Linked DNA regions of Homo sapiens. The protein of the gene in region 3 purifies or fractionates together with the protein of the main gene of each other region. This does not show direct contact. Each region holds a gene or a part of one and is shown on either strand. Other genes may lie near its edges.

The links.
Region 1: the proteins of WDFY2 (region 3) and ERCC6L purify together in Homo sapiens (affinity purification with mass spectrometry; 3 studies listed by BioGRID and IntAct, with this or other methods). This does not show direct contact.
Region 2: the proteins of WDFY2 (region 3) and SLC7A3 purify together in Homo sapiens (affinity purification with mass spectrometry; 4 studies listed by BioGRID and IntAct, with this or other methods). This does not show direct contact.

Annotation. Positions count from the first base shown.
Region 1 is NC_000023.11:72,211,412-72,215,159, forward strand, and holds part of ERCC6L (DNA excision repair protein ERCC-6-like), read right to left. Parts: intron 1-3,748. UniProt on the Homo sapiens protein: DNA helicase that acts as a tension sensor that associates with catenated DNA which is stretched under tension until it is resolved during anaphase. Functions as ATP-dependent DNA translocase. Can promote Holliday junction branch migration (in vitro).
Region 2 is NC_000023.11:70,929,389-70,933,136, forward strand, and holds the start of SLC7A3 (cationic amino acid transporter 3), read right to left. Parts: upstream 1,709-3,748; 5' UTR 1,589-1,708; exon of another isoform or gene 635-1,588; 5' UTR 610-634; coding exon 240-609; intron 1-239. UniProt on the Homo sapiens protein: Uniporter that mediates the uptake of cationic L-amino acids such as L-arginine, L-lysine and L-ornithine. The transport is sodium ions- and pH-independent, moderately trans-stimulated and is mediated by passive diffusion.
Region 3 is NC_000013.11:51,582,526-51,586,273, reverse strand, and holds the start of WDFY2 (WD repeat and FYVE domain-containing protein 2), read right to left. Parts: upstream 1,813-3,748; 5' UTR 1,587-1,812; coding exon 1,450-1,586; intron 1-1,449. UniProt on the Homo sapiens protein: Acts in an adapter protein-like fashion to mediate the interaction between the kinase PRKCZ and its substrate VAMP2 and increases the PRKCZ-dependent phosphorylation of VAMP2.

The DNA.
Region 1 (3,748 bases), on a different chromosome or scaffold from region 3:
GACAATAAAAACAAAAATTTTATGTTTAAATGGTTTTACCTGAAATTATATGACTAGAGCATGTTTCTCTTTAAGGATTATTTTAAAGGACATCTAATCACCTCCCACAAGGTGTCTCCCCAAACACGTGAGGATTACAGTCTGGATTACAATTCAAGATGAGATTGAGGATTACAATCTGGATTACAATTCAAGATGAGATTATGGGTGGGGTCACAGCCAAACCATATCAGTGGCACACACCTGTAGTCAGTCCCAGCTATTCAGGAGGCTGAGGCAAGAAGTTCGCTTCAGCATGGGAGGTCTAGGCTGCAGTGAGCCATGATCGCACCACTGCACTACAGCCTGGGTGACAGAGCAAGACCCGTTTCAAAAATAAAAAAAAAAAGAAATATTATATACAAACAACTCCTGGAGGAAGGTGATACAACAATTAAACTTGGGCTACAAAGTCCTGTTACCTGGAAAGCTACACTTTCGCTGGCAAAACTGCCCAGTTGCTAACCCCCTGGGTCATAACCCCACCTAAAGGTCTCTCTATAAGAAGCCCTGCCCAAGTGGCCATATAAAATCATCTCTGTGGCTGGGCATGGTGGCTCATGCCTGTAATCCCAGCACTTTGGGAGGCTGAGGCGGTTGAATCACCTGAAGTCAGGAGTTCAGGACCAGCCTGGCCAACATGGTGAAACCCCGTCTCTACTAAAAATACAAAAAAATTAGCCGGGCATGGTGGTGGGTGCCTGTAATCCCAGCTACTCGGGAGGCTGAGGCATGAGAATCACGTGAAAGGCGGGGGTTGCAGTGAGCCAAGATCGCACCACTACACTCCAACCGTGCACCACAGCGAGACCCCATCTCAAAAAAAATAATAATAATAATAATAAAATCATCTCTGCCCCAAAGCTATTTCCTCAGATGCAAACATTTTCCTTGACCATAGCCAATTAACCTCTCAACATCTAATCCACCTCCCTTTGGAACTGGCTGATACCTTGAGAAACCTTTCTTCTCCACAGAGGGTCTGCCAGTTCAGATGCTGAAAAGTTTTTCTATCTGGAGAAACCCATAAGCCATACTATTAGACCTATGCCCCAAAGAGCTAAGCTAAGTTAAACACACAGTGTTTACAAATGAGCAGCTGAAAAGGCACACAAGCTTAAGTTGCAGAAGACACACACTTGATTTTCCTTGCTATGGAGGGCCCTTTAGAACATTCCCTACAAAGTTATTTTAGAATGTGAAGAGACAGCTGGGAGCGGTGGCTTGAGCCTCTAATCCCAGTACTTTGGGAGGCCAAGGCGGGCAGATTGCTTGAGCCCAGGAGTTTGAGACTAGCCTGGGCAACATAGTGAAGCCCTGGTCTCTACAAAAAATAGAAAAAAAATTAGCCGGGTTTGGTGGCATGCGCCTAGACCCAGCTACTGGGAGGCTAAGGTGGGAGGGATGGCTTGAGCCTGGGAGGCAGGGGTTGCATTGAGCTATGATCGTGTCACCACTGCACTCCAGCCTGGGCTACAGAGCCAGACCCTGTCTCAAAAAAAAAAGAATGTGAAGAGACAGAGAACTGAATGCAAAGACCCTAACTCAATAAAACTTTGTTTTCTTCACATGCAAAACAATCAGAAATGCTCTTTGTTTTGTAATCTGGCCACCAGCCACTAGGCCCATATAGGGGTGGAGGAGCCTAGACCTGCTAATCTCGGCGCATGTGAGTGGGGTTATTGCTGTCCTCTCAACAAGAACCCAGTTTTGAGAGACAGGACTTGCTGGATTTCCTAGGCTGACTAAGAATTCCTAAGCCTAGCTGGGGAAGGTGACTACACCTACCTTTAAATACAGGGCTTATAACTCAGCTCACACCCAACCAATCAGGTAGTAAAGAGGGCTCACTGAAATACAAATTAGGCTAAAAGCAGGAGGTAAAGAAATAGTCAAATCATATATCGCCCGAGAGCACAGGGGGAGGGAAAATGATCGGGATATAAATCCAGGCATTCGAGCCGGGAGGGGCAACCTCGTCTGGGTCCCTCCCATTGTATGGGAGCTCTGTTTTCACTCTATTAAATCTTGCAACTGCACACTCTTCTGGTCTGTGTTTGTTACGGCTCGAGCTGAGCTTTCGCTCACCGTCCACCACTGCTGTTTGCCACCGTTGCAGACCCATCGCTGACTTCCACCCCTCCAGATATGGCAGGGTGTCCGCTGCGTTTCTGATATAGCAAGGCGCCCATTGCCGCTCCCAATCGGGCTAAAGGCTCGCCATTGTTCCTGCATGGCTAAGTGCCCGGGTTCGTCCTAATCCAGCTGAACACTAGTTGCTGGGTTCCACGGTTCTCTTCCATGACCCACGGCTTCTAATAGAGCTATAACACTCACCATGTGGCCCAAGGTTCCATTCCTTGGAATCCGTGAGGCCAAGAACCCCAGGTCAGAGAACAAAAGGCTTGCTGCCATCTTGGGAGCGGCCCACCACTATCTTGGGAGCTCTGAGAACAAAGACCTGTCCGTTAACAGTTTCCCTATACTGATCCAGCTCCTGGAGTATCTGCTCCCTGACATGTCTCTATGTCCAGTCCCCTTGTCAAGATGCATGTAGATGCATTAGACACAACAGATGTCTTTTGATTCTCCATCAAAATCAATAAAACATAAAACATTTGGATAACATAAAAATTGCAGGTGACCTGAATGCCAGTATTGAAAACAGGTCCATTTAAAGCCCAAGTCATGGCAGAGTAGGCTAGGAGGATTCCTTCCTTTTGGCTTCACTTTCAGGGATGGTCATTTTAATTAAGGTGGGGATCATTTTAAAATCACATATAAACACAAACAATATTATTAAATAGTGATTTCTGACATAAATTAGGGAAAAATGTGGTTCACATTTCAGTCAAACAATATTTAATAATTAGCTTTTCCCTGCTTAGCGCCATTTATAAGACAGGCATTTAAGAGTCAAAAAAACAAACAATGTTGCTTTACTCTTAATAGCCAAAAACTGGAAACAACCCCAGCACTTTGGGAGGCCGAGGCGGTTGGATCACCTGAAGTCAGGAGTTTGAGACCAGCCTGGCCAACATGGTGAAACCCATCTCTACTAAAAATACAAAAATTAGCCAGGCATGGTGGCAGGCACCTGTAATCCCATCTACTCTGGAGGCAAAGGCAGGAGAATCATGTGAACCAGGGAGGCGGAAGTTGCAGTGAGCCGAGATCATGCCACAGCACTCCAGCCTGGATGACAGAGTGAGACTCCATCTCAAAAAAAAAAAAAAAAACAAAACAAAAGTTTAGGCCAGGCACGGTGGCTCACACCTGTAATCCTAGCACTTTGGGAGGCCGAGGTGGGCAGATCACTTGAGGTCAGGAGTTCGAGATTAGCCCTGCCATCATGGTGGAACACCATCTCTACTAAAAATACAAAAATTAGCCAGGTGTGGTGACGGGTTCCTGTAATCCTAGCTACTTAGGAGGCTGAGGCAGGAAAATCGCTTGAACTCAGGAGATGGAGGTTGCAGTGAGCCAAGATCAAGCCACTGCACTCCAGCCTGGATGAAAAAGCAAGACTCTGACTCAAAACAAACAAACAAACAAAAAAACCCACCAATCTGTGATATATTCATACAAAGGACTCAATAATAGAAAAGAACAAACTACTACATGTATGAATTTATACATGTATGAATCTCAAAAACATGCTGAGGAAAAGCCAGGCATAAAAGAGTAGCAACAGTGTGATTTCACTTAT
Region 2 (3,748 bases), on a different chromosome or scaffold from region 3:
CCTATTATTACTTTTTAAGAACCAAAACCATTCACTTAATTAAGGAAACCAGGACGGAGATGGATAGAATGAGCAATTTCTCCACACCTTCAACACCCCCCCCCAGACCCCCAGCAAACCCGCACATTTAGGGAGATTGAGGTCCTGTGAATAATATAAAGAATACTTCCACCCAGATTTCCTGACCAAAAACCCCTTTGCTGGCTGTGCAGTTCCCTCCCTCCCCCACCATATCTCACCAATGACATAGGAGAGGATGAGGTTCCAGCCAGTGGTGAAGGCCCAGAGTTCACCCACAGTGACATAGCTGTAGAGATATGCCGAACCAGAACGGGGAACCCGGGCACCAAACTCCGCATAGCACAGCCCAGCCAACACAGAAGACAGGGCAGCCACCAAAAAGCAGATCACAATGGATGGCCCTGCTTTATCTTTGGCCACCTCGCCAGCTAGGACATACACGCCTGCACCCAATGTGCTGCCCACACCCAGGGCCACTAAATCCAGGGTGCTTAGGCATCTGGCAAGGCGAGTCTCAGCCATGCCTGACTCCAGTGTACGTCTGCGTACCAGCTTTTGACCAAATCTGCGAAATGCTTGCCACGGCATCCTAGCAGGAATTGAAGAAGATGATCTGGTGAAAAACAAGACAAAAACCCCTCGACAGGGCTCATTATCCCTAAACTCTGAAAGCGAATTACAAGACCCCCTCCACCAAGCAAAGGAGCTATTGGGAAATGAGGACGGGGATATGGAAGGGACAAAGGCAAGTCACTTTACCTCTAACCTCAGTTTCTTCATAAACAAGTAGGAATTACAATACCTTACAAGGTTTTTGGAAGGGCTAATTTCAGAAATGGCACGTGAAAGCCCCCTGAAGTAGAGTGGCTGGCGCCTAGTAAGTGCTCAATCAATATTAGGTCTCTTTCTCTTGCCAGAAACTGATAGGGTTTATCCTAATCTCAACCCAGGAATCTTGAAACCTAATGTGTCAGTTCCTTGGCCTGTGGCTATTTGGGAATTAAACAGAGCTCCACCCAGGGGCTTCCCCCGGGGCTTCAAACAGACACAGCCCCCAGACCCCCCAGAGGGAGAGGGGACCAACCTCGCTGCAGATTAAAAGTGAGCACCGACTCAATTCCATCCCTCCTCACCAAGCCCACACTGCTCAACTAGCGCAGCTGTCGCCCAGGGGAGTAAGCAAATGTTCCCCTACTTCCTCCCAAGCCCTGCTAGGCTGACCTGCAAGCATCAACAGCGAGGCGGGGCTTCGACATCTAAAGATTTGGAGATGCGCCCCCAGAGGGGCCCCAGGGCAGCCCGAGATTGCTCGCACTCTCCTCTCAGCAGAGAGGAAGGGTTCCACCCGATGCCCCCCGACTCAGGTCCCAGATTTTCCTGCCCCCATCTAGAAATGGTTTGGAGCTGGGGTGGAGACGGGAGCCCTAACTCCCGGGGCGGGGGTCTCGCCAGCAACAGGTCACGGCCCCGTTGATGCAACTGCATGCCATGGTTGCCAGAGAATCCTAGGTACGCCCGGACCCTCGCCGTCCCCCCTCCGACACACGTGTGGGTCCCCAACGCTTACCAGAGAGCTGTTGCAAACCTAGGGAGCACAGAGTCTTGGACTGGGCTCGGTGAGGCGGAGTTAAGCCGAGTTGGGTTGGAGCTGCCGAGTTCGGCCGCTCAGGCTTCAAAGCTGCGGCTTGGGGTCGTTGCGCGCCAAGCGCCCCTTATATACACCAGGAGGCGGAGCCGGTAACGTCATGGGATCCCACCCCCAATCCTCCTCGCTACACACAATACACACACACACACACACACACACACACACACACACACACAACACACACACTTCTTGGCTTTGCAAAAGGATTGCGTGGGGCCTGAGACTGCGTCCCATCCTCACTAGCAAGCCTGGCGTGCCGGGGAGCGAGAAAAGGGGGAGGGCAGTCTTTTCCCATTTGTCTCGCTGGTCGTCAGAACAGGACAATAAGAGGCTTCCTGGCCAAAGAACCCATGAGATTTTCCACCTCTGTGCCCTGTTAGGACCAGTGATTCTGGGCAGGAATGGGGAAGGTAGGTGGGGTGTGATGGGGGGGAGTTGGGTGCGTGTGTGTGTGTGTGTGTGTGTGTGTGTGTGTGTGTGTGTCAGGAGTGAAGCGGAACACAGCAGGGGAGTCTCCACCTCACTCTCAGTCTTTCTTCCTTAGCTTTCTTGTCTACACATCTGACCCTGACCCTTCAGCTCTCACGCTCAGCTGTGGGTGTTTCTAATGCAGGCAGCAGGAGAATGGAAGATGATTTCAAGCCACCTGTATACAGATAATTAATCCAGTCTAAATTGATTTATAGGCCCCAATCTCTCTATAATGTGTCTCCAGCTGCCTATAAATATTAAACTATTAAATGTGAAATTCTGACAATACCAACATCTTGGAGGAGGAAGCTTGTTTAGTTCCATTTTATTGATGTGTAAGCTGAGGCTCAGAGGCATGACTTGTTTGACACCACACCATAATTATTGTTGACCACCTTTGATAAAACCTGGCCTGTTGGACTTCAATGCCTGCCTCCCGTAGGCACCATATCTTATTCAAATGAACAAGAAGAGGGATGTGGCCACAAGGAAAGACAAACAGGGAGAGGCATCAGCAGCAGGGTAGGTCCGTTTAGGCTAGGAGATACTAGGAAACAGAAAAGGACCCGAAGAATCTACGAATGATCACATTGGGTCAGATCCATAATCCATCTGACCCAATCAATTCTTACTCATAAGAAAGCACCAAAGGTTGTGAAAGTGTGGTCCCTGCTCCACCAAGACATCTTGGGGACTAAGGATGGACTCAAATATCCTTGCTTCTTTTAATGATCCATGATGAATATATTACCCATGAATCTAAAATCTAAATCCGTTCTGAAAGAATTGGTATTTTCAACCAGCTGCAGCTCCATTTGGCATTCATTAAGTATTTATTGAGCATTTATTGAGCACTATGTGTAGTAGCTGGTACAGCAATGAAGAGACTATGAAGGAAACATAAAATAAAATCCTTGCCCTCCTAGTCCTAATCTAACTAGGGAAAGAAAACACACACTATACAACTGAAACCTTATTACATAGACGTTAGGAGTGCTGTGTTTGGAATTGCACCTAGGTTAAACTCACAGCTCAGCCACTGTGGATTACCTAACATCCCTGAGCCTCAGTTTCTGGACATAATATACATATTTCACAAGGTTGTTGTGATGCTTAGATGAGATTATGAAGTCAAGTCTTCCTGCCTGGCACATGGAAAGTACTCAAGAAAAACTTGATACATATTTGGAACGATATATTAGTGTATATGATCTGGTTGCTTAGATTAGGTGATTGATTGGATTATGAGATTGATTATTTATCACAGAGATAAAATCCAAATGCCATGAAATCCAGTCTTTTAAAGAGTACAATTCAATAGGATTTAGTATACAGTCACAGAGTTGTGTATCCATCACTACAATCAGTTTTAGAACATTTCATCATTCCAAAAAGAAACCCTGTACCCATTCCCAGACACTCCCCATTTTCTCCCAATCCCCTCACCGTATCCCTAGGCAACCACAAATCAATTTTTTTGCCTCTGTAAATTTGCCTAGATGTTGGTCAAAGGATGTAGAGTTTCAGTTATGCAAGATGACTAAGTTCTGGGGATCTAACGTGCAGCATGGTCATTATAGTTATAACACTGTATTATGCTTGATACAG
Region 3 (3,748 bases):
TATATTCCTTCAATATATTTTATGGAATATATCCCATAAAAACAATACTGTGCCAAAGAATTTCTAGGTCCAGAAGCAGTCTTTTTAATAAAATTTTGCCTTTATGGAAAAAATCAAACTTTCTCATAAGGCTTCTCTGTGAATTTCAAAAGGGTCCTACATCCATGTACTCCATTTCAGCCATGAATTTCTTCTGTTCATTGCAGAATGCTTGCCACTGGTGTATGTTTACAATGTTTTCCATTGGATCTGCACAGGAAATTAATCAGGCGCCATTTGTATTGAGCATGATGTAGACAAGAACATGTCATTAATATACTCATCCTAGTTATACTGAAGAACCTAAGACATGAACAAACCTATCGAGCTCAATTGTTGAGGCCACACACTATGCTAAGTGCGGAAATGACTATAAAGACAGCAATGAGCACTTTGTTGCTCAGCCTCTCAATTTTGAGTCACCAAGAAAGGATACTTTACCTCTGCATGATTTGAACTTATATTAAGAAAACCTACTTACTGTAAAATCCCCGTGTTATGTACCTCTACAGTGTTCTTTTGTAAGAATGCTTATATAGATTTTACCAAAGAAACAATTTCAGATAAATTATCATAATACTATCTTCAAGCAACATTACTCTAGAAATTAGCTTCATCAGCTTTATTCCTGCATATTCAAGGAAATTCAGTTAAAGCGAAAACGCAAAACAGAGAGAGTATTTGAAGGCAGAACAACTAGTTCCACTTCTGCATATTAAGCAAAATTAAGCAAAAATAAAGGAAACAGGCAAAGGGAAGGAACTCAAGAGCTATTTGCAGCAGTGATCCGTTACAAGTTCTACGCGCTTCTCCTCGAGCTCCAAGAGATAAGGAGGGGAAAGGAAAGAAGGCACCACGCAGAAGCCTAAACTTACTCTTGGTACAACTTAGAATATTCACTGAATTCAGCCTAAGATGTCTGGGTTATCTGGATTCAGTAGGAATGTCTGGGAAGAAGGAGTGGCATTTGCTTTCTCCGTTTGAAACCCTGGGAGCTGTACGAGAGTACCCCAAACCCCTTGGTTATCTTGCAGAGGCGGCTCAGGGCATCGTTCCCCAAGCACACACCTGCAAAGCCGGGCGGCTCCTCCCCTCTTTCCCTCCTGTCCTCAGGGATGGACCAAAGTCCCTCCAGCGCACCGTTAGCCCGAGGGCCACCCGGCTCCCGCAGGCACTACCCAGCCCGGGGTGAAGCCGGAGCGCTCGCCGCCGTCCCGGCTCCGCTTCCCGGAGCCACACAGCGGAGGCGGCGCGCAGCTGAACACCGGCACCACCAGGATGCGCATTACAATAAAACTTGGGGGAGCAAGTCTACACTCGCGCCGACGTGAAGGCACAGCCCCTGACGCGGGCTCGAGGGCCGTCGGCCCGTCCCGCCCCTCCTCGCGGCCGAATGGCAGTAGTCCATACCTGTCCTCGGAGACGCTGATGACGCCCTCCTCTTTGGGCACGATCACGGCCATATTCACCACCTCCTGGGACCCCTCCATCCGCTGCAGCAGGATCGGCTTGCGGGTCAGAGGCTTGGGCTGGATCTCCGCCGCCATCGGAGGAGGGGGCGCGCCTGGGGCGCCGCCGCCAACCGCGCCGCGGGGCCGGGCTGAGGAGACTGCTGGAGCACGGACACAGGTTGAGACAGAGACTCTGGCTGGCCGGAGCGGAACGCCGGAAACCGGCGAGCATAGCCTGGCCGCCTCTCTCGGGAACGACTCCGCGCTCCCTGCTTCAGGCACCAAAACCGCCACGACCTGGGATGCAAGCCGGCGCCACTACAAGAGGAGGGGGCGGAGCGCCGGGGGGCGGAGCCTGTGTGGGCGGGGCCTGCCGCAGGGGGTAGCCGCTGGTGGGCGCGAGGGCGGCTCCACTTCCGGGAGGGTGGTGAAGGAGGAGGGGAAACCTGGAGCAGGAGGCGGGGATCTGGTATCCCAATGCGCGTGCGTCAGTCCCGCAAGCCCATTTTCACCCCTCCCCTCCGCGACTCCCCGGGCGCTGCAGCACCACTAGGACGCATGCGCTTTCCGTTCCTCGCGGTCTTCTCTCTGCCTTACACACCCAAGGGTTAGGCTCCTCCCTCTTTAACCTCCCGTGAACGCGCGTATACACACCCCTGGGGACGCGCTTGCCAGACGCCACGCCCCTTCGAAATTCCCTGAAAAGAGGGCGGAGGTGGGGCGGGGAAAGGAGCGCCTCAGCAAGACCGGAAAGAGAAGAGGCCTGCAGGAAGGAAAGCCGCCCAACTCGTTGGGACGTGACTTGGCATGCGCGCGGGCTACCTGGCCTAGCGGTCTTAACAATGAAGCGCGGCGGGAGGCCGCTTACTGCTCCCAACATGCACCAGGCCCAGGCTGCCGGAGGGAACCCAGTGGCCTCCTGGGAGTCGTAGTTTCTTGGAGCCTCCGCCCCCTTGTCCTGGAATGACCTATCGCCCACTTTCTGCGCTATGGGCCTGAGGAGCTCAGCGGCCTCCAGGGCCATTGGCCAAGTCAGGACCCAGACTTGCCTCTATGGGAACTGAGGGGCAGCCCCCAGCTGAGTAGGACGTCACCACTCCTAGGGTCAGACTGATGCTCGGAATAGTGGCACGGAAGGGACATGAAAAGGAGAGAATCTTTCATACAGACATCTTCAAGGGAGCTCAGAGAACATATGGGGTGTCTATCCCCTCGTTTTCTTAGATGGCTAAATTACACAGCCAAGGTTACTTTAGTGCAAAGTTAGGGCTAAACAACCCCTCCTTCCCTCCAGACTTGAACCCAGGCCCCTAGTGCTGGCTTCTTTCCATTTCCCCAGCAATCCAGCCTTTTTAGCTTGCTCCAGACACAACGGACAGAGTTACTGTAGTTACTGACTGAATGTTAGGTGCCTACCAGAAGGCCTGGCATGTGGGGTTGATCGTGAAGACTAAGCTCTGCTTTTTTATCTTGCCCAAATTCCTATCTAAGGGGTCTGGGGAGTCATGGCCTACAAAAACCATAAATTCTCATCAGATGGGTTTTGACCATGTAGGTCATGACTTACTTTCCAGTCTGACTCTGGCGTAACAAGGAAGAAAATCAAAATGTTTTACCCCAAATTATATTTCCTTGCCATGCCTTAAAATTGCCCTGCAAAGTCTCTTGTGGGAAAAATCCACATTCTATATCCCCTTTCCCCTTTGTTTTCCTTCCTTCCTTCCTACACCCAGGAGATAACCAACTAAGAGCCAGGCACCGTTTTAGGTCTGGTAAGGAACATTTTACAACCTGCTGTCTCTAAAGGCTGCTATCTAAAAGATTCCTCTGCACAATAAAACCTGGTCTCCACAATCCTTTACCTTAACCTGAACATTCCTTTCCGTTGATCCCAGGTCTTCAGATAAACTCAACCAATTGTCAACCAAAAAACGTTTAAATTTACCTATAGCCTTGAAGCCCCCGCTTTAAGTGGTCCCACTTTTCTGAACCAAACCAATGTATTTCTTAAATGTATTTGATTGATGTCTCATGCCTTCTTAAGATATATAAAACTCAGCTGTACCCCGACCACCTTGGGCACATGTTCTCAGGACCTCCTAAGGGCTATGTCACGGGCCACGGTCACTCATATTTGGCTCAGAATAAATCTCTTAAAATATTTTACAAAGTTTAATTCTTTTCATCAATAGTCGTTATGTGATAACCTCCACTGAACAATCCCAGAATTAAGTTAGCCGAAGAGTAGTAATGGTCTA